4 linked regions of the Homo sapiens genome follow. The protein of the gene in region 2 purifies or fractionates together with the protein of the main gene of each other region. This does not show direct contact. Each region holds a gene or a part of one and is shown on either strand. Other genes may lie near its edges.

The links.
Region 1: the proteins of SYBU (region 2) and CEP162 purify together in Homo sapiens (affinity purification with mass spectrometry; 2 studies listed by BioGRID and IntAct, with this or other methods). This does not show direct contact.
Region 3: the proteins of SYBU (region 2) and MTARC2 purify together in Homo sapiens (affinity purification with mass spectrometry; 2 studies listed by BioGRID and IntAct, with this or other methods). This does not show direct contact.
Region 4: the proteins of SYBU (region 2) and TRAF7 purify together in Homo sapiens (affinity purification with mass spectrometry; 2 studies listed by BioGRID and IntAct, with this or other methods). This does not show direct contact.

The regions. Positions count from the first base shown.
Region 1 is NC_000006.12:84,224,642-84,231,538, forward strand, and holds the start of CEP162 (centrosomal protein of 162 kDa), read right to left. Parts: upstream 3,003-6,897; 5' UTR 2,939-3,002; intron 1,812-2,938; 5' UTR 1,753-1,811; coding exon 1,696-1,752; intron 1-1,695. UniProt on the Homo sapiens protein: Required to promote assembly of the transition zone in primary cilia. Acts by specifically recognizing and binding the axonemal microtubule.
Region 2 is NC_000008.11:109,641,812-109,648,989, forward strand, and holds the start of SYBU (syntabulin), read right to left. Parts: upstream 3,012-7,178; 5' UTR 2,906-3,011; coding exon of another isoform or gene 2,849-2,905; coding exon 2,825-2,848; intron 2,412-2,824; exon of another isoform or gene 2,318-2,411; intron 1,380-2,317; exon of another isoform or gene 1,137-1,379; coding exon of another isoform or gene 1,122-1,136; coding exon 917-1,121; intron 1-916. UniProt on the Homo sapiens protein: Part of a kinesin motor-adapter complex that is critical for the anterograde axonal transport of active zone components and contributes to activity-dependent presynaptic assembly during neuronal development.
Region 3 is NC_000001.11:220,744,206-220,751,329, reverse strand, and holds the start of MTARC2 (mitochondrial amidoxime reducing component 2 isoform a precursor), read right to left. Parts: upstream 3,009-7,124; 5' UTR 2,799-3,008; coding exon 2,527-2,798; exon of another isoform or gene 2,515-2,526; intron 1-2,514. UniProt on the Homo sapiens protein: Catalyzes the reduction of N-oxygenated molecules, acting as a counterpart of cytochrome P450 and flavin-containing monooxygenases in metabolic cycles.
Region 4 is NC_000016.10:2,165,776-2,172,799, forward strand, and holds part of TRAF7 (E3 ubiquitin-protein ligase TRAF7), read left to right. Parts: intron 1-81; exon of another isoform or gene 82-103; coding exon 104-161; intron 162-2,301; coding exon 2,302-2,393; intron 2,394-4,838; coding exon 4,839-4,955; intron 4,956-5,488; coding exon 5,489-5,581; intron 5,582-5,796; coding exon 5,797-5,830; intron 5,831-6,415; coding exon 6,416-6,599; intron 6,600-6,689; coding exon 6,690-6,824; intron 6,825-7,024. UniProt on the Homo sapiens protein: E3 ubiquitin and SUMO-protein ligase that plays a role in different biological processes such as innate immunity, inflammation or apoptosis. Potentiates MAP3K3-mediated activation of JUN/AP1 and DDIT3 transcriptional regulators.

The sequences.
Region 1 (6,897 bases), on a different chromosome or scaffold from region 2:
TCAAAGTGAGAAAAGTTAGCATGACTCTAAAATCATGACTTTCACAGTAAAAAAAAAATGACACATTGCAACTGAGGATGGATATAAGAGGAAGAGAGACACAGACAGAAGGGTGGGGGAAGGAGAGTGTTGGAGAATGTGTGTGCTGGAAGGGTGGTAAATGAGGGAAGAATAAAAACATCTTCTAAAAGGCCTGTTCTGCTATCTTTTACAATAAAAATCATTCCTATAAATTTAATTTTCAAAATGTGTCTGTATTTGAAATTTTAAAAAATCAACTTTTCAAATGGTAAATGAAACTTATTCCAAGTGCCTATTACATCTTGACAATTGGTAGATGCTTTTTTAAATCCTTAAAACAATTCTACAAAGAAGGCATTATTTTTCCATGAGACGGATAATGAAGTTTTTTTGTACTACATTAAACTCCCTTTTTTAACAAGAATGTATAACGTATAATAGCTTAAAATGTGACTCTCTTGAATGCTCTACAAGGCCCCTCCATTTATATAAATAGAGTTTTATGCATCGCTTAATTATGGGGATATGTTCTGAGAAATGGGATTTCATCATAGGAGCATCATAGAGTATATTTACACAAACCTAGATGGCTCCATGGTATAGCCTACTCCACACCTAGGCTATATGGTATAGCTTATTGCTCCTAGGTTACAAAGCTGTTCAGCATGTACTGTACTGAATCCTGCAGGCAACTGTAACACAATGGCAAGCATTTCTGTATCTAAACATAGAAAAGTAAACATATGGTACAAAAGATTAAAAAGATACACCTTTATAGGGCAGCCCCATTATAATCTTACGGAACCATTGTTGTATATGTGGTCTGTTGCTGACCAAACCATCTTTATGAGGTGCATGACTGTACACAGAACGTGGTATAACCATTTAATATACTCATTCAAATATTTATTAAGTATTTATTAGGTACTGTAGACATAGTAGTGAACATGTTGATATATAATAGCAATGAACGTAGAGTCATCACATTACAGACCATACATTCTTATAATGGGAAGCAGAAAACAGACCCATACAAGAAAAATAATTAATGTGCTAAGTGCTATAAAAAGAATTAAATACATACCAGATTAAGAAGTGACTTTGTGTTTACCTTTTACTGGATAAACAGAAGAAGCCTCTCTGAAGTGGTGATATTTAAGTTAAGATTTTCACCAGCCAGGTAAAGAGTAAGGGAGGAGCATTATTGGCAGAGGGAACAGTGAGTGCAAAGCTCCTAAGGTGAAATGAGCTTGCAATGTCTGGGAAAGAAAAAAGGCCACTGTGGAATAAATAAAGTGGGTGAAAGAGGGATATGAAGGCAGTGAGATATGTAAGAGTGAAATCATGAAAGGCTTTAAAACCATGGTAAGGAGGAGTTGTTTGTTTTTTTTTTTCTACATGTGATGGGAGACCAATAGAGTCTTTTACTGGGGAGGAACAGAGTCTGACTGCAGTGTGGTGAAAGGAATGCTGGACCATGAGTTGAGAACTGCTGCCATAGCCCAGTTGAGATGATGGCACTGAACTAGCAGTGGCAGAAAAGGGACAGGGCTAGAGGGATGATGGGAATTCAGAGTTTGGTGATGGACTAACTGTATCTTCGAGATGACAGAATTGAAGGATGAGTCTTTTGAGACAAATTTGACAATATAGCTTTTAAAAATATAAACTTACCTCTTTCATAAACTGTTCAAACTCTTCATCTAGCTCTTCTTGGGAACAGTTAGCCATAGTCAACAATTTTGACCTCCCAAAGTAAACATTCTAAAGTACCTCAAACATTGGAAACACTAAATGACAAGAGACATAAACATCTTTTGAGGAAATCCATCAGATCATGAACACGACCAGACTTAAACTTCGGACATTTGTTATGATTCAGTATATATGCACAATTTTTTTTAACCAGTAAGAGCTGGTCAAGAGATTCCTAATTCATTAAGCAAACTGATTTGGAAAAGCAGCTTTGACAGGATGTCTTGTACTCAACGTTCAGAATTATGTTTTCATCTGTTAACATCCAATTGTTAAAGAGTGGTCTCTACAATATTTCCCAAACCTATGTTTGTGTGCATGTGTTAATTAGTACCTCTCAAACACAAACCAGGTCCTCACAGGGAATCTTAAAAACTGTAAGTTAGCAAATCCAAAGGACTGTTTCTTTCTTGCAAAGCACACGACAGTTTGTGCTGCCTTATCACTCGGCTCGTTATTTTACCAATCCATAGTAATAGTTTCGTAAAGCAGACTGCATAGTTTCGTAAAGCAGACTGTATCCAGATACGGGGATGTTTCAAAATATACACAAATAGAATTTAGTAAGAATTAGTAATTTAGTCAAAATACTTAAAGAATACTTAAAGTTAATGGAGTACACAAATCAGTACTATGTTTCTTTTGAAGCGAGGGAAGACCGACAAAAATTATGTGCTGAACACAAGCAGAATCCAGTGATTTGCAACGGAAAGCGTTCCCCTAGACACCTAATGAACCCAACCTTGGGTCGACCCCCAGCTCCTGAACTCCCTAGAGCAGCTCAAATCCCAGCTTTCTTCTGTAGAGATGGGGGAGGGGAAGAGGGCTTGCAGACCCGGACAATACCCTCCCCATCGTGCAGAGTAACACCTCTTCCCCTCATTTGCACTTTCGATCAGTTCAGGGTAAGTGCGGTTAAGGTCTTGGCCTGAATAGCTTGGTCAGGGGTGAGCTCCACTAAAAGCTTCTCAAGCCTGGCTGCGACCCCGTCCCCAGAAGCGCGGGTTCGGGAATTGGAGGGAAGACAAAGACGCATTTGCCGTGGGCTCCGGGCGGAGAAGGGGAATGACCTGGAAAATTAAAGCCCTTCGCTCGAGTATGAAGCACGGCCTCGACCAGGGCGATTTGGGTGGGAAACCAGCGTTCACACCTTACCACCTACCTCTGCCTCTGAATTCCGCGCTTTCCCGGAAGGTCTGTGCGGGTCCACCAGTTGTCAGGGTAACAGACTTCAGCTGCCGGGTTCTGGAGTCACATGACCCGGGCTGGTCACGTGGGCCGTGGGTTTCCCAATGCCTTTACAAGCGAAGGTCGGAATAACCACGGCTGAGAAAGACACTCTAGTGGCTAAACCTTCGCTGCTGCAGTAAAATGCCTTTCCTTCCCTGGCTTTCTCTACGTTCCTTAGAAAAGGGGACAGCGGCAAACCGGTTACTGGAGAAGCGAGACGGAGGCTTCCAGCAGGCTTGGAGGGCGCGGTGGTTGTAGGCCAGCCCGTGGCTTTCTGGGAAATGTAGTTTAGCTCCCCTGGTCCTTGTGTTTCCGCACTCCGCATCGTCGCCTCCCGCCTTCCCCACACTTGTCATTCGAGCGCTCTGTTTTTCCAAGGGGCAATTTTGAAGAGATTGAATTTCTTGGATTTCTTTGGCCTGCAAAGACCTGTGTAGGCATTGTGAGAGAAACACAAACCTGTGAGGAAAAAAACTGTCGTTTAGATGGGGACTCTGTTCCACCACCTAGTGGGCAAGAAATCGAAAATACGCAAACAGCAAGATTCTTATTAAGTTATTGCTCCTCCCGCTACCCCTACTTTTCAAAACTGCATTCTTTACTGGCATTTCACAATTACTGACTTGGATTTTGTTTTCTATTTCTTTTCTTTTTTTCAAAGCATGCAACATTAGCTGGAGTTTCAGAGGACAACATTTAGCATAGTGTAAGTAAAATCTACAACAGCTGCAGGTTTTGCTGATGGTAGACTTAGTTCAGGACCTCATCTTTAGCTAGAACTGTTTATTCATCAAGTCTTTCTTGCAATACAAATATGTACAAACCAGGAGCTGTGGACTATGATGCAAATATGAATAATAAAAGAAATATCTTAAGCTACCATTTATTGAGAAGTTGACTTCCTGCCACCTTCTATCAAAGACTTACCTTCCCACATATGATCTAGAGCCTTTACCCATTCTTCTTCTCACTGATCTTGTTCCACTGGTCATTTCCCTTAATCCTGTATCTTCGACTTCTGGCTGGCTGTGGGATTTTTCCTAACAGCATTTGAACATGCCTTGAGATCCCCACCTAAAACATCACTTCTGACACATTCTCTTCATGCTATTATTTCCCAGTGGTTGAAATGATCTGTCTCCTCACCTTACTTGCCAATCTTTTCTGAGGAATTATTTCCACTTTACCTCCCTTTTGTCAGACCTTTTAATCCTGTCTCTGTGTGTGTAAGTGTACATATATGACAGCGCTTTATTTGATCTCCCAATACTATTTGATACACTTGTCTCCTCTCTTTCTTGGTTTTTCTTTCACATTTATAGCCTCCCCTCAAGGGTTTTCACTGTCTCTGTCTATCCTAGCTGACCTCTAAATGTTAGAATTTCTTTTCTTTTCTTCTTTTTCTTTTTTTCTTTTCTTTCTTTCTTTTTTTTTAATTTCTATTTTTTTGAGACGGAGTCTTGCTCTGTCACCCAGGCTGGAGTACAATAGTGCGATCTCGGCTCACTGCAACCTCCACCTCCTGGGTTCAACTGATTCTCCTGCCTCAGCCTCCCGAGTAACTGGGATTACAGGTGCCCACCACCACACCTGGCTAATTTTGTGTTTTTAGTAGAGACAGAGTTTCACCATGTTAGTCAGGCTAGTCTTGAACTCCTGATCTGCCCACCTTGGCCTCCCAAAGTGTTGGGATTACAGGTGTGAGCCACCGCGCCTGGCCAATGTTAGAATTTCTTAGGGCTTATTTCTGGACTCTTATTCTGTCACACTTCATGGTACTTCCATACACCTACTCATTCAAGACAGAAATCTGGGAGTTCCCTCTCTCCCATATTTTATTCGTCAAGACTTGTTGGTGCTACCTCCAAAATGTGTCTCTATTCTGTTCATTTTACATCTTAATTACTAATGATAGAGGCATCTTTTCCTCTTGTCTGAGCTGCTTCATTAGCCTTCTAACAAGTTTCTCTATTTCTACTCCTATCCTCGTCTAACCCATTGTCTACACAATAGAAAATGTGATAATTTGAAAATGTAAATCAGGTTACTCCATTGCTGAAAATCCTACAATGATTTCTCTCTGTATTTGTACTAAAATCCAAATATCTACAAGGACTTGCATGGTATGGTCGGCACTATTCTCTTCTACAGCCTCCTCTCACCCCCACTCACCAAGGCATGCAGAATTATTTGCAGCTCTGGTACAGAGTTCAGTCCTATTGAGGTTAGAATTGGAGCTTTGGTATAAGGAGTGGAAGATGAATGTTACTGTGTCTAAAGAGTGAATAATCATTTTGTCTCTATGCGTAAACCTACAAAACTTATGCTTATAGGATCCAAGAGTTTGTTATGCTGAATTGTGGAAGGGATGTCACTAAATTTTTGGTACTGAATTGAATTGTTATACATTTTTCAAAATAATAGTCATTAAAAGAATGATTAATATTTTTTGAGAGTTTACACTGTGCTGTATACTATTGTATTCATTTTTATAAAATGAATTGACCTCATGACCCATAATTTAAAACACCATTTAATACTAGCTCTCATCATAAATATATATCTAAAATGTCAATGAAATGGCTACTTTAGTAGTTAAATCACTCTGGGTAGCATCAAAGTTTCCTACTTTTAGATTCTCCATAATTGTTACAGGTTTCTCAATCATTATGTGTTTCTTTTTGTGTTTCCTAGAATGATATGAAATTTGATTTATATTTGGTGTTTATCCAGCTCTCTAGTGAGGTTCTAGAGGGGGAGACTGTACCTCAAGCCTTATATTGCCTTTTCTCGTAGCAAACAGTACAGTGTGAGAACTCGGTCAACACTGACAGTATAGTTGTAGCCAAGACCTGCAACGGTAATGGGGTGTAAACTTAGCACATTGTGGGAGTGGATTAAGGAGAAGAACTGAATCAGATACAGTTACATAATAGTTCCAGTTGCTTGCTTCTTTACCTCTAATTTTCAGAAGTGGGTATTCTCTTCACTTATGTGGATAATGAGGAAGACACTGAAGGAATCGTATCATTCTAGTCATAAGAAAATTAATGGTTTTTTTGTTATTGCCATCGTTATTTTGTTTGTCAAAGTCATTGTTGACTTCTGCTCATTTGTCCACATCTGACTGCTTTTGACTACTTAAAATTTTTCTTAATTGTTTTGTATATGAAATGTAGTAGTCAAAGTTTAAGCTATTGTTATAAGTTGTTCCCAAGAAAAAGAATAATAATTCATAGTAGAATATTGAGAAATTGTACAGTCATATTTACAAGTATTTAAATGTTTCTAAAATACAGGCAGATGCTCTTTCCCTAGGGTATGCAGAGCTGCCCATTTACAATTATATCATGAACTCATGGATGGTGATTTAGGTCATGAAATTGTTTTTAAAATAATTCTTTAATAATCCAGTAAATGGCCACTGAGGATGTCAGCAATTTGGCTATGCTTCTAAATAATACAGTTATCAACATGGTTTTATAATTATTATGGAAATGTAAAAACACAAAAATTGACGAATCAAGGAAAAACTCAGCCTATGAAGACCCTGTGAGGAGGAAAAGACAAACTAAAGACTAGGATGAAATATTTGCAAACCACATATCTGACAAAGGGCTGCTATCTAGAACATATAAAGAACACTAGCAAAATAGCAAAAGCAAAATACACAATTAGAAAATGGACAAAAGACACGAGTGGACATTTCACCAAAGGGGACATGAGAAAGGTATATGAAAATGGTGAATAAGCACATGAAAAGATGCTCAGCATCACCAAGATATTCCACATCATTAGGGAAATGCAAATTAGAACCACAATGAACTATCAACTGGGTGAGTGTAGATATGAAGAGGTAGCATAGGAAATCTTTGTAGTGATGGAATTGTT
Region 2 (7,178 bases):
TGGAGAGGATGTGGAGAAATAGGAACGTTTTTACACTGTTGGTGGGAGTGTAAATTAGTTCAACCATTGTGGAAGACAGTGTGGCGATTCCTCAAGGATCTAGAACCAGAAATACCATTTGACCTAGCAATCCCATTACTGGGTATGTATCCAAAGAATTATAAATCATTCCACTATAAAGACACATGGACACGTATGTTTATTGCAGCACTGTTCACAATAGCAAAGACTTGGAACCAACCCAAATGCCCATCAATGATAGACTGGATAAAGAAAATGTGGCACATATACACCAAGGAATACTATGCAGCCACAGAAAAGGATGAATTCATGTCCTTTGCAGGGACATGGATGAAGCTGGAAACCATCATTCTCAGCAAACTAAACAGAGGAACAGAAAACCAAATACCGCATGTTCTCACTCATAAGTGGAAGTTGAACACATGGACACAGGGAGGGGAACATCACATACCAGGGCCTGTCAGGGGGTGGGGGCTAGGAGAGGGATAGCATTAGGAGAAATACCTAATGTAGATGATGGGTTGATGGGTGCAGCAAACCACCATGGCATGTGTATACTTATGTAACAAACCTGCATGTTCTGCACGTGTATCCCAGAAATTAAAGTATAATAAAACAAAGGAAAAAAGTCATAGAAACAAGAAGTTAGATTTTACATTCGAAATTATAAGCTAGAATAACATATGAAAATTCAGGTGTGAGATTCCAATAAACTGAACTATATGAAACTGCTGTGTTTGTAGGTCACAACAGCCAGAAATGTACCACCTTCTACAATTCATCCTAATAGTAGAAGTGTAGTTCTAGGCTATAAGGGACCCAGTATGGGCCCATTCACAATGCACCTGCAGTGCACACGCTTCACGCCTCTGGTGGCCTCCCGAGGGTACTGTACCTGAGCAGAAGCTGTTGCTGCTAACGGTCCTCGCTGAGCGCCCAGAGCTGCTGGGGTTGAACTCTCTGCTCTCTTCCTCAGAGAAAGGAGACTCAGAGGCTGGGGACACTTTGTGCTGTTGTTGGGGCATATGGGGCCGAAGAATCAACCGGGGAATTCGGCTTCGAGAAATCTCCTTGTCATGATGCTGCACTCTGTGCTCCTTCTCAAAATTGGACATCAAAAAAGAAAACAAAAGGAAACGCGTTTCCCTCTCTTAACTCCTGTCGGTTCCTTCAAGGATCAATTTCTAAGAAATCACATTTCTGAGTATTGAGTCTTCACAGAGTAGTCCTTCTTATCTCAGTTGCTGAAATGAGCTTCAAAACTCTTCCAATGAGTTAACCTTTCTAATCTACTGAATAGCACATGTCTGTGTGGCACACACACACACACACACACACACATATACACACCTCCACTCACTAGCTGGAAGGCCATCCTACTTCCCTATGCTGGTCCTGACTCACCTTCCCACCCTGACTTCTATCACATTCAAGCTTCTGCCTCCCAAAGGCTCTTTATTAACACCACACTCTGGCTTACTTGATAGCCTTCAGACTTCCATTTTGCTTTCCCTAAATTAGCTGTGACAGTCTGACTTGTTTTCTTGTCTCCTCACAAAGTTGAACCCTATACCTGGAACAGTTATTTCCTGATAGCTCACACACAATTATCTTTAAAATCCCTCCTCTTCTGGACAGGATCTTAATTATTCGTTAATATCCTGGTACACAAGGCTTGTTGCCAACAGAAAAGCAAACACAAATCCGATACTCGGGAAGATGGCTCCACCTTTTACATCATCTTTAATTTTTGTTTTCCTTACAGGACATCCATAAGAAGAGATTTTTCTTTCTCCTTAAAAACGCAGCATGAAGTACCCTGCCATTTCGTGGTTTTAAAAATGCGTAACAGTAATATTTTCACAATGTTTTCCAACTTATAAAGTGCTTTTCCAACCATTTTCTCATTTGATCTTTACACACCAGACTGTACATAGAGAGCACACCAATGAATGTCCCTATTTTCAGATGAGGAAACAGGCTAAATGGGGTAGAGATGCTTAGGCAATTCTGCACACCATGCCAGAAGTAGAACGAAATTCAAATCCAGTGCTTTGCAGGGTCACCACCACCCTGCCTTATGAAAATGGATTCCTAGGAGGAGCGTTTTGCAAAAATTCCACTGCTTCCTCCAACCTCTGCCACTGAAAGGGACTCTTTGGCTTAGGTAACAAACACCCTTTCGAAACATGACCTACTGTTCCTTCCACCGGCTTACCAGGAAGGGTCACGGCCAAAATAAACACCTCTGGGAGGCCGGCACATGGCATAAATTGAAGGGTAAACCTCAGCAATGGGGAACTTCGGAGGGCCCTCAGGCATCCACTCTACCCGGGGGCCGCCAGCCGCACGCAGCCTCGGATTCGCCCTGCACATCTGCCGCCCAGCAGGTACCATGCGCCAGCCACTCCGCCGGGCACACCGCAGACCCTGAGCTAAGGCAGGGTCACTGACACGCGGGAGTCCTCTTTTCCCAGTCGCGGATGCATCAAATTCCTTTCATTCACATCACACACACAGGATATCAACTGAAAGCTACACCCCACAGTCCCAGTTTCAGGAGGTGGGATTAACCCTCCAATCATGTCATTCTCCAAAATCTATTCCTCCAGTACCACCTCCCCATCTCCTGGATCTCAACTCCTAAGCAATGCCTCCTGCCTTCTCCAGACCCCACCACCACCTCCTTCCACCTTTCCCCAGACTCTAAATGTCACCCCTCCAGCTCTCATCCCGCCGCTTCTCGCCCCGCAGTGCCCGCCTTCCCCGCCCTCCAGTGCCCGCACTGCCCCGCGCTCCTTACCTTGCTCTCGCGGAGGGGCCCCATCGCGCCGCTGCCCGCCGGCTCCTCGCGCCGCCGCTGCCGCCGTCCAGGAGGAGGCACCTGCGAGCACGGAGCGAGGAGACTGCGCTGAGCCGGCGCGGGCTGCGGGCGGCGGCTCTTGGTGAGGCTCCAACGCGCCGCCGCCGCCACTGCCGCCGATTGCTCTGGGCTCCGAGGGCACGCCCGACCCCGCCCCGGCCGGACACGTGGTGCCGCACTCGCTAGAGGCAGCTCCTGGGGCGCCTCCCACGCCCTCCCTCACCTGCGGCCTTCGGGGCAACTCGACCGCGCCTGGGCGCGCCCCACCCGCCCGATTTCCCCACGGCACTCCGCGCCCCCCCAGCCAGAGCCGGTGTCCCTCCCTCTCCAAGGAGCTCGGCCCGGTGTAGGCAGGCTGCGGCTAGCGGCATCTCCAGCCCAGGGGTGACCCCACCCTCTTTTTTTTTTGCACTTGATCTCAGGTTTGAAGTGGGTGGCGTTGGATGGAGTGACTGAGAAAAGCTGCGACATCACAGAGAGACAAAATAGAGAAAGTTTTCCCCTGGCCACCCCTCCTTGGCCTCCAGGTCTTAAGTCAGCCTACAGCTCCCCACAACTGCCTCGCCCGAGAGCTGCAGAGATCCCTCTCGTACCGGAGCCCAGCCAAGCCAGTGCGTCAGGACCGACACAGCCTCTGGGTTCCGGGATCTGAAAGGCTGCGATGGATTCTACTTGGAAGGGGTTGCATCAGAAAGGCCTTCAGTGGTCAGCGCAGCTCCCTCCGGCTTGGAGAAGCCAGGCTGCTATGTAGCCAGAGAACAGTCTTTTCCCCAGCGCTGCCCTGCAGCTGCCCGGCTCCAGGAAGTAGCTCCAGCACACTGCTAAGGGAAGAGCACTGGAATTGAACTCAGAAAAACGAGTTCAAGCCAGCACTCCAATCGGTCCCTTCAGCCTGAGTGCCTTTATGCCTAAAGTTTTTGTTGTTGTTTCGTTTTTTGTTTTTTTTTTTTTCCGTTGCTGTTGAAACGGCATCTCGTTCTGTGGCCCAGGCTGTAGTACAGTGGCGCGATCAGGGCTCACTGCAACCTCTAACTCCTGGGATCAAGGGATCATCCCGTCCAGGCCTCTCAAAGTGCTCGAATTACATGCGGATGCCATTGCATGCGTGGCCTACGCCTACGGTTCTTGACCCTTCTGAACTTCAAATTTACCCTTGTTAAATTGAGGGATAATAATAGTGATACCTACCTCTAGGATAGCTGTGAGGGTTAGGTGAGGAAAACAAACAGCTCTATCCAGCTGATTGAACAGAACTTTCCAAAGGGCAGCTAAGTCAGGTCCAGATGATCCAGTCAATATTTGTTGATGCCTTTTACATGACAGGCAGAAAAAGCATTTGTGATGCACACAAATTTGTTTAAGAAAGCTCGAAAATCTGTCCAACTGGGGACTTAGAATAGGGTACATCAGCTGGGCCAAGGGCCTTGATTTATTACAATTGCTACCCTTAAATCTTATCTGGTGGTGGAATTCACCATGTATAATGACTTATATACCCTTTATTCAGAATTGGAGAATATTCCAAGCAGTGCGACACTCTGATCCTTATGCACCAGTGTCCTACATAGGAGGACTGTGCTCCTCGAAAACTGAGGGTCATTGTCCCCTTTCATCCATCCTCCAAACAGCATTTCTGAGTCCTCAACTCTCAAGCCTAAGAATATATGTTGTGAGTCTAGAGAGAGCCTGAAGCCAGAGGATTAGTGGAATCAATTTCCCTTCTTCCTATAACTCCAAAAGAGAGCTTCCTCCATAAATCTTCATGCCTTTTCAATCTACTTAGCTCTCTCAAGCAGTGAGGTTGGTAATTTTAAGATTCTTTATTTGGGAAGAAGAGGTGATTAATTCATACTTTCTACACCCACAGCTGTTTCAAATATGGACCTCAGGAAAGTGATGGTCCAGGATGATTCATACAACTTATTATTCCTAAAATTATGAGCCTGGGATCATATACTGTGAGATAAGAACAAACTTTTAAAGTTAATGGATGCTTCTGAGTTCCCTACTTAGAATTGAGAATTGACACTGGGGACCTAATAGCAGAAACACCCTCCACTGAGTTAGCCAAGTCAGAACCTCAGTGTCATCGTGGACTTTTTTCTCTCATTCACCTGACCCACACATAGCATAAACCACCAAGTGATCTCTATGCCACCCAAGTAATAACGGTCTTGAATCTGATTACTTCTGTCCACTATTTGTCTCCATTATCTTCGTGTAGAGTGTAAACCACAGTCACCCTAGATTATTGCAATAGTGGTCTAACTCAAGGTCTCTTGCTTTCAGCCTTGCCTCTTATTCCTTTCTCTCCGATCAGTGTCTCCATTTTTCCACAAGCCTTTATGAAAAGCTAAATCAAGTCATGCTTCTCCGTGAAAACTCATTAATGATTTCCTGATTGTCCTCCAGGTAATACTGAAACTCCTTAATGTGGCACACAAGGCTTTCCTGATCTGGCCGCCTTGTTTACCTCTCCGATCTCATTTCTTGCCACTCCTCTCTTTTGTAGATACTCCCTCCCCTCCCTAACCTGTCCCTTTGGTCCCTGCCACTCTTCCCTTACATACAAATGGATACTGCTCAAACTGTAGCACTTTCAGTTCTCGGAGGTGGAGGTTTTGTATTCTCTTTTTCGTCGAGACTGCTGCACCTGCCTCTGTTTAGAACATTTCTTGCACTACATCCACCTATCCTCCTCAACTCTTAAAGATACATTGTTTCATTTTAGACAGCTTCTTCCAGGAAACCTCCCCTGATGATTCCAGGACACTTATTTTTACCCCCAAGAGAGCTGTTATGATCTCCTCAGAATTCCCCATTTACTTGTTTGTTTTCACCAAAGCTTGTAGGCAGTGCCTAGTACAATTCCTGTTATACAGTTGACACTCAATACATAACTGTCAAATGAATTAATGCCTGAATGAGTGAATTCTATAACCCCATAAGGGGCCCATCAGTGCAAGATAAAGAACATAGATACAACTTGTTTTGAAAATGATTCAGATAAAGCTGCCTCCACAATGTATTTGTATCTGATGATTGGGTGTGTGCCTAAAAAATCCAACATGTGTTCAGTGACAGCTTTTACTGCAGAAGTGCAGGCACTGAGAGGCTGTGCAGTAGCCTTGCTGTCGCCATAGCAACCTAGCAGAGGGAAAGGCTGATGATTTAGTGTTCAGATGCCTCTTAGCTCTGTACTTTTGGAACCCAAGCCTGTTTTTCCACTGTTCTAAAAGGCAAGTTTTACCGATGATAATATCTATGCCGCCTTAATTTCATTCAAGTGTTTCTCATGTCATTAGAAGAAATGTCTTGTAACATTTGGATTATACCATCAAAGAGATATAATCTAATACAGCATAATATGGTCTTCTTTCCCCTGCTTTAAAATAGTCTTATGCATCATTTTCATTTTTTACTTAAAGACTTACTTTATGGTCTTGTTTTATCACCTTTTGGCTTCTTTAAAAATTAATGTATTTCTGGCTTTTAGAAAATATCAATTGCTTTAGGATTTAACCTTGAAATATTATAAATAATATATAATAATATATATATACAATAATATATATATATAATATATATATATATCTCCTGGCAAAGCACAGGAGAGATAGGGTATTGTAGACTGGGAAGGAAGGTAATGTCTTTATATAATTATTCCCTCAAATCTGGGATAAGTTACTTGATTGTTTATGTGAAATTTGTAATTAAATGATTCCTACCTTTCGTATGCACAAAACTTTATATTTTCAGAACTCTTTCACATATATAATTTTATTTGAGCCTCACAAAAATCCCGTGAGGTACATGTGGCCAATCTCTGAGACCAGATAACTGAAAAAGCATAGATTTTTATTAATAGGAATCCCCTAGACTGCAAACTTCACAGAGAAGACAATACAAATGCACTGCTGAAAAGAAAACGCCTGCACCAAACAACCCAGACACATCACGGTCCCTCACATTCACTCTTCCTCACATCTCACCTGTGTATGCAGGGGGTTTTCTTGGGCTCAATCAGGGCTGACAAAGCACCATCTCCTAATCCTATCAGCTGTGTGAGCAAGAGCTGCTGTCTCTCTCGGTGACCTAATGTTGGGTGATCTGCACAGCAACAAGGAGCAGCTGACGTGCTTCACAACACGTCACGAAGGAAAGAAACTGCATTCTGGGGCATCGTGAGATTTTTTTGTGTGTGTGGTGGGGTGGGGTGGAGACCCATATTTTTCTTACCAGGGAGAGAGCTGCCTGTTTTCCCATAAGAGCATGTGTGATTGATCAACCCTCC
Region 3 (7,124 bases), on a different chromosome or scaffold from region 2:
GCCAGCATTCTGCCAGGTGGACTTTAAACACTCAATGCTTAGGGTGCTCAAGCCAAGTGTTCACAAGTATACTAAGAGCTTTGAACAAAATACCTTTAGAAATTTGAGACCCAGAGCACTTCCAGAGGAAAATCCCAGCTCCTTGGAACAGTTAGTTCCAAAGACACAGGTTCAGAATGGAATTCATTAAATGAGGCCTTTCCCTGAACTCTAGGAACATTTGTAGTAGTGTTATTAAATTGTCAGGTGGAGAAGACAGCGGCTATCAAACAGAGTTCTCTCCAGCAAGCCTGCTTTCAAATTGTTAATTATGCTTTGATAAATAAAATGTAGTTAAAATGGGGCTTTAGAGACCATGAAGTTCAACCTCATTCTTTTGCAAATGAGACAACTTTGTAGAAGTTCGCCCAAAGTCTCCTGATCCTCAGTGCAATCCTTATAGTTTTATATCATGCACTGGTTTCATACAAACAGCATAAGTTCTGTACTCACACAGATCTGAGTTCACATCCCCACAGCACACACTGGTTTTCTGGCCTTGGATGGGATACTCCTTCATTCTGATACTGTTTCCTTATTTGCAAAATGGTGATAATACTATCTAGCCCACAAGATTGTTATGAGGTTTAAATATGCTAATCTATGCGACAGGATTTAGCTCAGTGTCTGCTGCATTTTAACACTGAATAACATTAATTTCATTGCCTTTCCCTCTACCCCAGGCTTCACATCACCCCACCCCATCCTAAGCGTTTATTGTTTAAAACAAGGGAAAGGTAATACAGTTGTATTTATTTTAGGATGCCAGTGGGAGCAAAAAGCACAGGCAAAGGACACGTATTTTCTTTCCATGGTTGCAGTAGTCATGGCAAAGCAGTGACAAAGAGAAGTGGGAAAGAAACCGTTCTTCAGGTGATCAGAGGAAACGCAGATTAGAACTGGAAACTGTCTGTGAAACCAACCCTTCAAGCGAGGAAGGAAGTAGTGCAACCTAGCCTGCAACACTAATTTTCTCTGGACATGCATCGTGAGAATTTGGTTCTCCCAGTTTTTTGGAAGGTGTCCAGTCCCACACAGCCTGAAGTCTTTCCAGTAATAGGAAGGCTTTTCTTATCCTTCATATTTGAATAAGCTCTAAACATCCTCTTCTTCTTCATGGTCTCGGATAAAATCCTTTAATTATAGCATCAAAATCACCAGGGGGAGATTTAAACATTCTACACGAGTTGGCCCCACTCTTGGTGATTCTGCTTCCGTAGTCCTGGGATGGGAATCTCAGGAAGTTATAGTTGAAAAAGCTCTCCAGGATAAGAAATCTGGGGTAAGGGTGGGAGAATGAAAATCCTCCCATGATTCATATGGTCTGTGTACACAACACTTCTCTAAGACTCTCTGAAGTTTTCCAACACCATGGAAGTCCACATTTCTTTAAGAGGGCAGCAGTCTTCAGAAAACAGTGCATCCGCGTGTCCTGGAGTGAACACAGGGATGCAGGTGGCTCTCTGCTAGAGGAATCCTTGAATGATCAACTTGCAAACCTCCCTCCCCTCGGACACAGGCCCACAGCTAAACCATCTCGGCCAGATAAGAAGACATCTTGGCTGGGCACAGTGGCTCACACCTGTAATCCCAGCACTTTAGGAGGCCGAGGCTGGTGGATTCCCTGAGGTCAGGAGTTTGAGACCAGCCTGGTCAACAGAGTGAAACCCCGTTTCTACTAAAAATACAAAAATTAGCCGGGCGTGGTGGCGCACACCTGTAATCTCAGCTACTTGGGAGGCTGAGGCAGGAGAATTGCTTGAACTTGGGAGATGGAGGTTGCAGTGAGCTGAGATAGTGCCACTGCACTCCAGCCTGAGCTACGAAGTGAGATTCTGTCTCAAAAAAAAAAAAAAAAAAAAAGAAGAAGGCATCTTAATCCTAAGTATGAAATGTCTATGTGTCAGGCCCAAAAGTCCCAAAGTTCCAGGCTGTGAACAACTCTGCCTATGGGAGAAGGGGGGACACTATTCCCTTAATGGCAAGTATCACCTCTGCCCCAGAGTCCCCATGCCACTTGCTCATCCTTCATCAAAGTGTATCAGGCCTCCAGGGCACCCCCAGGATTGGAGAAATGTGAGGAACAAGGCCCAGCAAGGCCTAAGCCAATGTCCTTGAACAACACTTGGTTTCTTTCTTGCTGCTTTCTAGTGCCAATAGCTTTATTTTTCTACTTTGGTATACTAGGATAGAATCACAAACTTTAGAGCTAAGGAGACTTGGAGATACAGGTCAGACCCCCTCCTGTTACAGAGGAGGAATCTCTCGTCTAGGGAAGGGCAAGGGATTGCCCCTACCTACTTTACCAAAAATAAACCTGGCATGAACTTGGCCTTCCCAGATAAACGACCAACGGCCCAACAGTCAGCCCAGAAACTCAGGTGGCAAACCTCTATAGTCCTTCCCAGATAGATCGGGCCCCACCTGCCCCCCCGCTCCTCATCCCAGGCAGGCTCCGCGCTGCCCCGCGCCCGCGCTGTGCTGTACCTGTCCCGCAGGTTGCCGCTGCGCAGCCCCATGGCCGTGCACTCAGCCTCGCTCACCGGCACCCCTTTGCAGGATTTCACCGGGTAGATCCAGAGCTTCGCCACGGTGCCCACCTGCTGCAGCCGCCGGCGCCGCCTGGGCCATGCGCGGCGCCAGGCGACAGTCCCCAGGGCCACGGCGGCCAGTCCTAGCGCGGCGACCCCGAGCCACCTGGGCCAGGGCCGGGCTGGGAGGCCGAGGCGGGCCAGCGCGGAGGAGCTGGAAGCGCCCATGGCAGAGCGAGGGCGGGCGCGGACCGGCGCACAGACCCGGCAGCGACCGGAGACCGGGAGGACGAGGAGGCCCTTAAGGATCCGGGCAGGCGAGAGGAGTCAAAGTTGACCCAACTACGGACCCTCTCACACTTTCACCGCCGAGACGGCAGAGCAGTTCCGCGGAGAGCGGGAATGCCTTAATGCGGTGACCAAGCCTGCGCGGTAATGGAGGAAGACAGGCAGACAGCGGCGGGGGTACCCTGGGCGCCGTGGGAGCGACGCCGCCCAAAGCAAGCGAGCTAATGGGGCGGCCTCTGGGGTGGTCAGTGTCTCCTCCCTCTTCCCCGCCCCTACAACACGACAGTTACCCATGCAACATGACCTTCAGCGCCAGCACTCTGCCACCCCCTTCTCTGCTAATACTGCACGCTTAGTCGCTCGACAAGATCACCGCAGAACGTGAAGGCGGGTTGCCCAACGGAGGATTTACAAACATTTGGGAACGACTTTTTCTGGCAGGTCGCTGTGAGAACTGCAGGACTTTCTGCACACAAAGACACAGTCTAAACCTCTGCACTCAAAGACGAGGAACTCTAGCGTGGCTTATAGGAGCATGACTCAAGGTCCCCCACCCTCCGCTGCCGCCTAACCTCGACCCCAGTAAAATGTCTTCCCGAGAAAGCTCAAGGCAGCCAGGAGAATTCCCCGTTTATTCTAGCCAACACCCGATGGTAAAGCCCCTGACCTCCCTTTTTTAGGATATTTTCTTAAAAGGGCTTACAACTGTGAATCCTTTCTCTGTTGCTTTGAGATGTATATGTATCGCCTACACCTCAGAAGTGTCTTTCTCAAGGACCTGAAAGCCATTGCTCTGAAATGCAGTCATGGGGAGGATAGGCCTCTGTCCCCCAGTCTCTGTGGGAGGATAGAATCCCAGCTTCATAACGGCCAGCTCCAGGCACAGCTGCCCGTCATTAATACTGACCGCCCCTTCATGATTTTTCACTTGATCCCCTGCTAGCTTCCCGGCCCTATTCTCTCCTTCACCCTTTAAAACGCCCATTCTGCTATGCACAAATGAGAATGATCAGCTTTTTCTCCTACTGTAAGTAGTTACTGAGTAAAATCTGTTTTCATGGTTTAACTAATGTCTGGCTTTGTTGATCTTTAACACCTCCATTCAAGCAAGCTATTGGGTTAACAGTGGATTTTCTCAGACAAATTAAGGTTTGAAGTCTTTCAAGTTTTTTGTTGTTGTTCTGTTTTTCAAAAGTTTGTCCCTTAAACTGTGGCACAGTTCTAGGAAAGTTTAAGGAGGCCAACCAGTGGGCCACCCCCCAAATCTGGGCTGGCCACCTCCAGAGAAAGGGGCCCGTTCTGGAGTGTGGGAAGAGACTCCGGGAAGGATGGAGAACCAGAGGAGCCAGGTTCCCTTTGGCTGTTCCTTGTGAAAAGTGAAAGACAAAACAGGGCCTGAATCTCTCCCCACCCAGGAAAAAACCTCAGGCCAGCAGAATTAGTCCCTCAATCCCCATACATTTACATCATGCTTGGCAGCTGCGACTTATGGATTTGTTTTTTAAGCATGGTGTGGTGAATGTGATGTGTGTACACTTGTAGCTGACCCCCTTTGCCTCTCCCAACTCCTGAGGAGGGTCAGAGTCCTCCCTGCCCACAAGCCTGCTGTCAGAGTGAGGGGCTTACAAAGCCATCGCCTCGCTATACGTGAGCTCCCAGACAGGGCAAATGTCTTATTGATTAATCATCTCTTTCTTTCACCACATAGATATTGATCATTCACCAGGCTTCGTCCTAGATTGGCACTGGGGATTTAAAGTTTAGAAGAAGCTGCCCTTCCATCCAGTTCACTGACTCCCCAGAAGACTGACACCTCCCCTGCAAGTCTAGAGGATAATGTCAGAGGAGAAGCAAGGTCAAGATGCAGAGGATGCAGAGGCAAAAGAGCAGCTGAATCTCAGGACAGTGCTGTTTTCAGAGGGCGGAGCTTTGGAGCTGAGACTTGAACATGAGGAGGGGCTTGGAGATGGGTAAAGGAGAGGATTCTGGGCAAAAGGAGCAGCACGTGCAATAGCCTGAAAAAATGGAAGGAACAAGAGAGTGTGGCATGTTTGGGCAACCACCAGCAATCCAGCTGTATTAGGATGTACCTGTGCATGCAGCAGGTGGCGGGAGTTGAGGCAGGACAGGTGGGCAGAGGTCAGATCAACAGGCATCTTATCTCTACTTAATGTGGAGACACCTCAGAATTCTGAACAACAGTCTGGCATGATTAGACTTGGGTGCTAGGAAGGCCATTCTGGCTGCTCTGAGAAAGAGTAACACCAAAGATGGTTAGATGAGTTGCAAATGCCCTAGTTCAGGCTGATGTAATTCCAAATCAAGGAAAAATAACAGTGGGGCTGGAGATAGACATGTGGTTAGGAGAGATGGTCAGGGGACAGAATTAACAAGAGATAGTGATGACAGAACACAGAGCCAGAGGGAGAGGAAGAGCCCACGGGGCCTCCTGGCTCTGTGGCATAAAAGTCTGGGGTGGGATGGGGGTACCATTCTCAGAGATTAAGAATTCAAGAGAAGCTGGGCACAGTGGCTCACACCTGTAATCCCAGCACTTTGGGAGGCCGAGGTGGGCGGATCAGGAGGTCAGGATATCGAGACCATCCTGGCTCACATAGTGAAACCCCGTCTCTACTAAAAATACAAAAAATTAGCCAGGCATGGTGGTGGGCATCTGTAGTCCCAGCTACTTGGGAGGCTGAGGCAGGAGAATGGTGTGAACCCAGGAGGCGGAGCTTTCAGTGAGCCGAGATCGCGCCACTGCACTCCAGCCTGGGCGACAGAGAGAGACTCCGTCTCAAAAAAAAAAAAAAGAGAATTCAAGAGAAGAAGATAGTCTGGGAAAAAAGATGATGAGCCTATTGTGAACAGCGAGTGAGAGGTATCTTTGAGACATCAAAGAAGAAATAGTTACCTAGATAGATGGGTAACTTGACCTTTCCATGCTTCCACCTCCTCATGTGCAAAATGATGGGGATAGACATCAAGTGAGGAACTTTGCCATGGTGAGTGCTGCCAAGTCTTTGCTGTCTTCACCAGCCATTATCTATCATAGCCTGCCCTGTTTAAGCTTCACCAATGCTGGGGTTGGGGGTGCCTTCAGGGGAGCAGGGAAATTCCTTATCAGTAATGTGTACATTTGCAGCCCAGCATCTTCATTTGTAGAATTAGTGAGGGGTGATGAGAGGCTGTATTAGTCCATTCTCACACTGCTATAATGAAATACCTGAAGCTGGGTCATTTATCAAGAAAAAATGTTTAATTGGCTCATAGTTCTGCAGTCTGTACAGGAAGAACGGCGGCTTCTGCTTCTGGGAGACCTCAGGGAGCTTTTACTCATGGTGGAAGACAAAGCAGCAGTGGATGTCTTACATGATAGGAGCAGGACCCAGAGAGAGGGGGGAGGTTCCACATGCTTTTAAACAGCCAGATCTCATGAGAACTCACTCTCAGGATGATAGCACCAAGGGGAATGGTATTAAACCATGAGAAACCAGCCCCATGATCCAATCACCTCCCAGCAGGCCTTAACTCCAACACTGAGGGTTGCAATTGAACATGAGATTTGGTTGGGGACACAGATCCAAACCATATCAAAGGTTGAGGATTCATGAGTCTAATTGGCTGTTTGCATATCTTTTTTCCCTTCTGATTTGAATCAACTTATCTATTTTTTTGTTAATTTATAAGATCCTTTTATAAATTAAGAAAATTACCCTTTTATCATGCCTTCCCAAGTCATAACTTTTTCCCCTAGTTTGTCATATTTTGGCAACTTCTGCTTAGGAAAAATCTTTCTAGTGAATAAGACATCATTGTCTGCCTAGAGGCACTGACATAGATAAAGAAAACTCTGTCAATTAAAATATCAACCAAGAAACCAGAGAAAAAAAGAAGCCTAAAACCCAAATATTACCTTGCTTAGCCAGGTCCTCTTCAGGAAGGTGAGTACCCAGCAGCCAATGGAAGTATTCATCAGGGCCATGTAGCAGTTTGTCTTTCCTGGGGAGATGAGCACATCAGATTATCAGGCAGTGAGGATAGTCAACCTTCAACCCATATAACAAATCTCATGACGCAGGCTAGGCTAAAATATTGTAACAACCTCAACATCTCAATGCTCTAACAAAATAAAAGTTTATTTCTCACTTACATCCCAGTTTGATGCAGGCCAAACATTAATCAAAGGTCCCCTTAGGCCAGGCCCAGTGGCACACACCTGTAATCCTAGTGCTTTGGGCGACTGAGGCAGGAGGATCACTTGAG
Region 4 (7,024 bases), on a different chromosome or scaffold from region 2:
GTGGCCTGGCCTGGTCGCGTGTTAGGCATGTGAGTGGGCTCCACATGTGCACGTCCTCCTTGTGTCCCGGAATGAGGCCAGGTCTCCTCCGTCCTCCCTCTAGACCAGAATGGAAACGACCTTCGGACCCGCCTTTTCAGCCGTCACCACCATCACAAAAGGTGAGCCCTTAAGCCAAGGCCAGCCCAGGCTGGGAATAACCGGGGCACCCCCATGCCCACCCTGCTAAGGACTGAGGGACACTTCCCGGTGAGCTGGTGTTGGGTGCCAGTGCTGGGCGCGGGCAGCCTCACACCGCAGCCTGTGTCCTCACAGCCTCTCAGCCCTGGGCCTCCCCACTGGACAGGAGTCGGGTGTCCTGCTCCTTGTGCCTCGGTGACTGTGCTGTGCCCTCTCTCCCTGCCCTCTTCATCCCCTCTAGGGAGGCTTGCCCTGACATCTCCAGCACCACCACACAGCCCTGTCCCTTGTCACAGTGATCCCCAGCTTGTCCCCAGTCTCAGGCTCCTGGCCAGCCTCCGAAAGGTCCCGTGTGCCCGGAGGTCTTCTCTTGAGTTTGGCCCTAGGGCTTCAGTAACAGTGCTGCAGTTGTGACATGTTAATAGGAAGGGAGGGAGAGTGGAAGAGATCCATAAGTCTGGTTTGTTTTTTTGAGACGGGTGTCACTCTGTCACCCAAGCTGGAATGCAGTGGCGCAATCTTGGCTCACTGCAACCTGTGCCTCCTGGGATCAGTCCTGCCACCTCAGCCTCCCAGGTAGCTGGGACCACAGGCACCACCACACCTGGCTAATTTTTTTTATGTTTGGTAGAGATGAGGTCTCACCATGTTGCCCAGGATGGTCTCAAATTCCTGGGCTCACGTGATCCTCCTGCCTTGGCCTCCCAAAGTGCTGGAATTACAGGCATGAGCCAGCAAGCCAAGCCCAATAAATCTTCACCTGCACAAGACCACTGGGCGGGATACACGACAGAAACCTGAAGCTTCCCTGCTGCTTCTCAGTCCTATCCCCTAAAAACCAGAGTGCTGCGCTTTGAACGCAAGCGCCGTGCTCAGGGAGACCATGCGGAAGTGGCAGTGCCTTCTTCCCGAGGTGCAGGGCCAGGGACCCTCATTCCGGGGTGGGGTTCTGGGGTGACTTTGTTCTCTCTCCTTTCTGGCACTCTGCCCTTTGTAGAAGCACACTGGCTGCTAATTAGCTTTTTAATTGCTCTGATAAACCTGGCCATGGGGTCATAGGGCCGCCAAGGACACCTGCTTACAGTAGCGCCTCTTTGCTGCTGGTGATCCCCTCAGGGGCTCTCCAGGGGCCCTCTTTTTTTTTCTAATCCTACCCCCCAAAAAACGGTGCCTTTTCATCTACCCTTAGAAGCCCCATGGCCCCTGTCACACGGCGGAAGGTACCCATGATGGGGCAGGGCACGGCTGCTATGCCTGGCCCCTCGGCGGCAGGGATGGGCAGAGCCAGGCAGCAGGGCGCCCACAGGTACCTCACCTGGCCCCTCATGACAGATGGGGAAACCGAGGCCCAGTCACACGGCAGCCTCTCGAGGCCTCAATCTCGAGCCCAGGGCTCATCGTGACATCTGAGCTGGGCTGGTCCTGAGTCCGGGAGGTGTCTCTCTCTGCCTCCCACGTGGACTGACCGGCCGGTAGCCCTGCCCTCTGGCCCTGGCCAAGCTGGGGTGACGTGTGGGCAGGAGGAGGGAGGGCACTTCAGCTCCTGCCCCAGAGGAGGCCACCAAAGCTGGGGCCACTTCCTGGTCCTGGCTGTGCCAGGGACACCAGGATGCGGTCCTGGCCCTTCTGTATCCCAGCCCACACCTCAACCTCAGCTTCCCCCTCTGTGAGTGGAGGCTGTCAGGGAACTCACCTGGCAGAGGTGCCTCAAGAGGCAAATAAAATGGCACCCCCAGCTGCTGCCAGGCGGCCTTCAGAGTGATGGCTGCGTGCTGGCCATGAGCCTCAGCTGGCTCAATTGGGGTGCTGGGGAGCTTGTAGAGGCCCTGAAAGAAGACCCTGCCTGGGGTAGGCAGGGCTGGGGCAGGGGCTACCGGGCTCAGCGCTGGGACTGTCCAGATGTAGACCGAGCCCAGCGTCCATGCTCCTGGCACTGGTTTGACCTTGAGAGGGAACCCAAGCTTCCCCCGTGCCATCCCTGCATGCTTTCCTGCCTGCCTGGCCCTGGGGAGGGCTGTGAGCTACAGGGGACCCACAGGGTCGGGTATCCAGCATGGGCCCCACCTCCCCCACATCTGCTGAGGGAGCCCCCACTGAGACGCCAGCCCTCTTGCCTTGCAGCTGACGGGACCAGCACCTACAAGCAGCACTGCAGGACACCCTCCTCCTCCAGCACCCTTGCCTACTCCCCGCGGGACGAGGAGGACAGCATGGTAGGTCCCTACCCCCAGGAGCCCGTGTGAGCCTCAGCCTCCCCCCATCCTCCCTCCTGGGGGAACCAGGTCCCAGGAGGAGTTGACAGTGAGCTGGTGAGGCACAGGAGAAGAAGAGCACCTGTGGATACCCTGAGGCCTCGGCAGACATGGCAAGTCTGTGAGAAAGGAGGCTCCTGTGGCTGGACTGTGGGTGGCAGGGGGCAGCCAGTGAGGGCAGCTGGGTCAGAGGGCCTGGCACCTGCAGGCCAGGATGAGGCATATTTGGCTCCATCTTAAGGGAGGTGGAAACCACAGAAAGTTCAGTCAGGAGGATAGCACAATAAAATACATGCTTTGAAAGCTTCCTTTGCTGCTGGGTAGGGAATGAGCGGGGTTGCTGGGTCCAGGCAGGGTTTGAGGAGGGGTCCTGATGAGGCGGGGGGAAAGGTGTGTGGACCTAAGCTGTGGGGACACCAGAGGCAATGGGGTGGGGGTTGCGGAACCTGCGCCAAGTGCTGGGGGAGCCGGAGAATTCCCTGTTGCTGGCTGTGTGAGGTGCAGAAAGGATCAGGGCAGTCGGGGGCTGGCTGCTGGTACCTGAGCCCTGTGGCCAGGGTCTCAGTGGCCGTTCCCTGCCATCCTGGTCAATGGCGCTCATTGCTGGGCTCTGGGCCTACCCAGGGGACAGAGGCCAACTCTACCCTGGGCATGAAGGACTGGCCCAGCAGGGGGTGGGGGTGTGTGGGGCCTCTCTGGCAGCTGCCTCTCTCCAGTGCTTGGACACCAGGTGTGGCGGCCCTGCTGGCCCTCTTGGGACCGAGGCCTTTTCTTTTTTCCTTTTTTCTTTTTTTTGAGACGGACTTTTGCTCTTGCTGCCCAGGCTGGAGTGCAATGGTGTGATCTCAGCTCACCACAACCTCCGCCTCCCGGGTTTAAGTGACTCTCCTGCCTCAGCCTCCCGAGTAGCTGGGATTACAGGCGTGCACCACCACTCCTGGCTAATTTTGAATTAGTAGAGATGGGGTTTCTCCATGTTGGTCAGGCTGGTCTCGAACTCCCGACCTCAGCTGATCTGCCCCCTCCTTGGCCTTCCAAAGTGCTGGGATTACAAGTGTGAGCCACCTTGCTCAGCCAGAAAAGAAGTTTTTAATTAATTGAACAAACACACCTGTGTGCCGGGCGCTGTGCTAGGCCGAGGGCGAGTTGGGTATGTCTGGGCCCCGTCCCCTGGGCCTCTGCCTGCCTCGGTCTCCACAACCCGAAGCCACGAGTCCTCCATGTCTGTGGTTCCCATAATCACCTGCTATCCCCATGGGTCACGGTGGCTTTCAAGAGAGGCGGGTACCTTCTCTGTTTGCTGATAGGCCCACACAGGGAGTCCCCCTCCTGCCCTTCCCCCGTCCCCCAGGCCTGCCTGCTGTCAGCCCCTACGCCCAAGAGGGTGGGAGACTCTGGGGTAGTATTGGGCAGGCCCGGGAGAGTGGTTCCCGTGCCAGCTCCTGCTCTGCTCTCGCCCCTGGGGCTCCCTCTGCTGCTGTGGGGCCTTGTGACTCACTTTCTCTGACTCCCTTCTGTTCCCCATGTGCTGCTTCCATGCAGACGGGCCCTTGGGACCCAAAGGGAGGTGGGTACATGGCACACAATGCCCCCCGCCGGCCTTGGGACTGGTTTGCCTCTGTGCTCTGTGGGTTTCATACCCAGGCTGCCGGGAAGGGGGCCAGAGGCTCGGCAGAGCAGCAGCTGGGCCCCTCTGCAGTCAAAGCACCAGGAGAGAAGCCTTGGGCAGTGTGGCTCTTGGAAACTTCTGGAGGTTTCCAGGCCAGAGGGGAGGAAGGGACAGTGTCTGCCCCTCCCCCAGGCTCCCTTGTCGGTGGCTCAGCCAGAGGCAGGCACCTGTGGCCCTCACTCCTGCCCTCGGGAAGCTCAGCCGAGGTTCTCTGGGGGCCTGGCCCTGCCTTCCCTCTGAGCCTCCCAGCTGGGCCTGGTGTCCCCCACCAGCAAGGCCAGACAAGCAGCCAGGCCCGGGGGGCACCTGGAGCCCAGCCGTCGCTCCCTGCCAGCATTCCTGGCCCTTCCATCCTGCGGTCACGGCCTCGGCTGTCCAGGATTGGCTGGTGGAGGTGCCCCCTCACGGCCCACATTCCCCCACGGGAAGCAGGAAGCAGCCCGGGTATATGGAATTGAATAGCAGGAAGTCTCTCCATTTACACAAAGAGAGGTGGCAGGCGTGAGCGGGCAGCCCAGCACCCCGGCCCAGGCCGCCCAGGCGGGCAGGCAGGGACCTGGGTTGCATCAGCTCCCCACGCCCACCCACGGCCCCCGTGGACGAGGAGAGTACCCGCAGGGACCGGGGTGGCCCCAGGGGTGCTGCTGCCCTCGCGCTTCCGCCGGGCTGGGTCCTGTCCTCCCCGAGGCTCTGACCCCGTGCGGAGCCCCCCGACAGGCGCCTCTCCCTCCACACAGCCCCCCATCAGCACTCCCCGCCGCTCCGACTCCGCCATCTCTGTCCGCTCCCTGCACTCAGAGTCCAGCATGTCTCTGCGCTCCACATTCTCACTGCCCGAGGAGGAGGAGGAGCCGGTAGGTGTGGGGGACTCGGCGCAGAGCGGCTTCCAGGGCTGTCACCGCAGCCGTGGCACGGAGGCACCTTCCCCTCCGCCATGCCCGCCCAGCTCACAGGGAGAGGGCGGCTGGGGCCTGACGGGAACTGCAGTGCTTGCTGGTCCGTGGTGGGGACTCGAGGGACCAGGCCGGGTCCCCTGGGCATGTTCCCCCACTCCCCCTTCTCAGGGCTGCCCGGGAACTGGCAGCGGGAAGCACAGGGCTCCAGCAGGGCCCTTTCTAGTCTCACCCCAGGAAGGAGGCGGGCGAGGGCGGCCAAGGCTGGGCGGCTGAACTCATCCTCCGGGGTTGGGCCCTGCCTCTGGGGCCACAGACCTCGCTCTCCCTCCTGGGCCCCGATCAAGCCCCCCAGCTCTAAGCAGGCCTCTCTCAGGACGTGACCCTGTCCTCAGAGGACAGCCAGGCCTGGAGCAAGAGCGCCTGGGTGCCTGGGTGGTGGCGGGGCTGAGGGTGGCCTCCCGCCATCGCCTGCCTTTCCCGCTTGGTTCCAGGAGCCACTGGTGTTTGCGGAGCAGCCCTCGGTGAAGCTGTGCTGTCAGCTCTGCTGCAGCGTCTTCAAAGACCCCGTGATCACCACGTGTGGGGTGAGCCCGCCGCCCTTCCCAGCCCCCCTGCTGCCAGAGGCCCCCACAGGACCCCAGGGCTCTCGGGGGCCGGGGCTGTGGCGCCCTGGCCTTGGTCAAGGCCTGTCCTGGCTGCACTGGGCTTGGGGTACAGCGAGGCCTGTGGCTGCCATGGCCATGGACTAGGGAAAAAGAGGACCCTGCGCCACCCTCAAGCCCGCCCTTTGCCTCCACAGCACACGTTCTGTAGGAGATGCGCCTTGAAGTCAGGTAGGTTTGTGCCCCGGCCCAGGCCTGACGCCGACCGTGCCCATGGCTGCCGAGCAGAGGCGGGCGGCTTCTCCCTTGTCCCCTGCACAGCGTCCGGCCCTGTTTGGCCTCTGCTGGGGTTGGGATGGGGCTGCAGCCGTCCTAGGGACGCTCAGGCTGAGGCTCGGGACCTCCATGAGCAGAGTGGGGACACCCCAAATTCCAGTGTGTCCAGACTCAGAGACCCCACAGTGGGTGTGGGCCGAGGCTCCCCATGCCAGGGTTGGCACCCTCTGGGGAGGCCTTTCTCACTGGCGAGGCTGTCGTCCTCCCGCACGGCGCCCGCTCCTGCCTGCCTCTCCGCACTCTGCCCTCTGCCCTCTTGGCCCCACCCCACACTTTTCCGGGCACAGCTGAGTGTCACAGGTGACACTCCCTCAGCACCTGCTGCTCCTTCTTGGTGGCCCACCTGTGCCCCCGTTCCCATGTTGCGTGCCTCAGAGGCGCAGATGGACAGATCTGGCCCCCATTAGAGGCTCATGCCCACCCGGGTGAGGGAGCGTGTGCCAGGCAGGCCGTGAGGGTCAGCACGCCCTCCTCTCCCAGAGAAGTGTCCCGTGGACAACGTCAAACTGACCGTGGTGGTGAACAACATCGCGGTGGCCGAGCAGATCGGGGAGCTCTTCATCCACTGCCGGCACGGCTGCCGGGTAGCGGGCAGCGGGAAGCCCCCCATCTTTGAGGTGGACCCCCGAGGGTGCCCCTTCACCATCAAGCTCAGCGCCCGGAAGTAAGTGCCCCTCCCTGGGCACCTCTGCCTCCCTGGGGGCTGCTTCTCAGGGCTCTGGCTGAGGCCTCCCCGCATCCCGCCCTGGCACAGGGACCACGAGGGCAGCTGTGACTACAGGCCTGTGCGGTGTCCCAACAACCCCAGCTGCCCCCCGCTGCTCAGGATGAACCTGGAGGCCCACCTCAAGGAGTGCGAGCACATCAAATGCCCCCACTCCAAGTACGGGTGAGTGGGGGGCGGGCGGGGGTGGGCCGGGGTGGGCGCAGGCCCTCCACAGGCTCCGCTGAGAGCTGCCCGCTTGCTGGTCCCGGGGAGGTAGGCCGGAGCTGGGGCCACACCGGGGTCTGTAATCCTCTCTGAGGCCCAAGGCCCTGGAAACCCAGAGGGGGAGCCGAGGGCGTCCAGGAAGGCGGGCGTGGACGCTC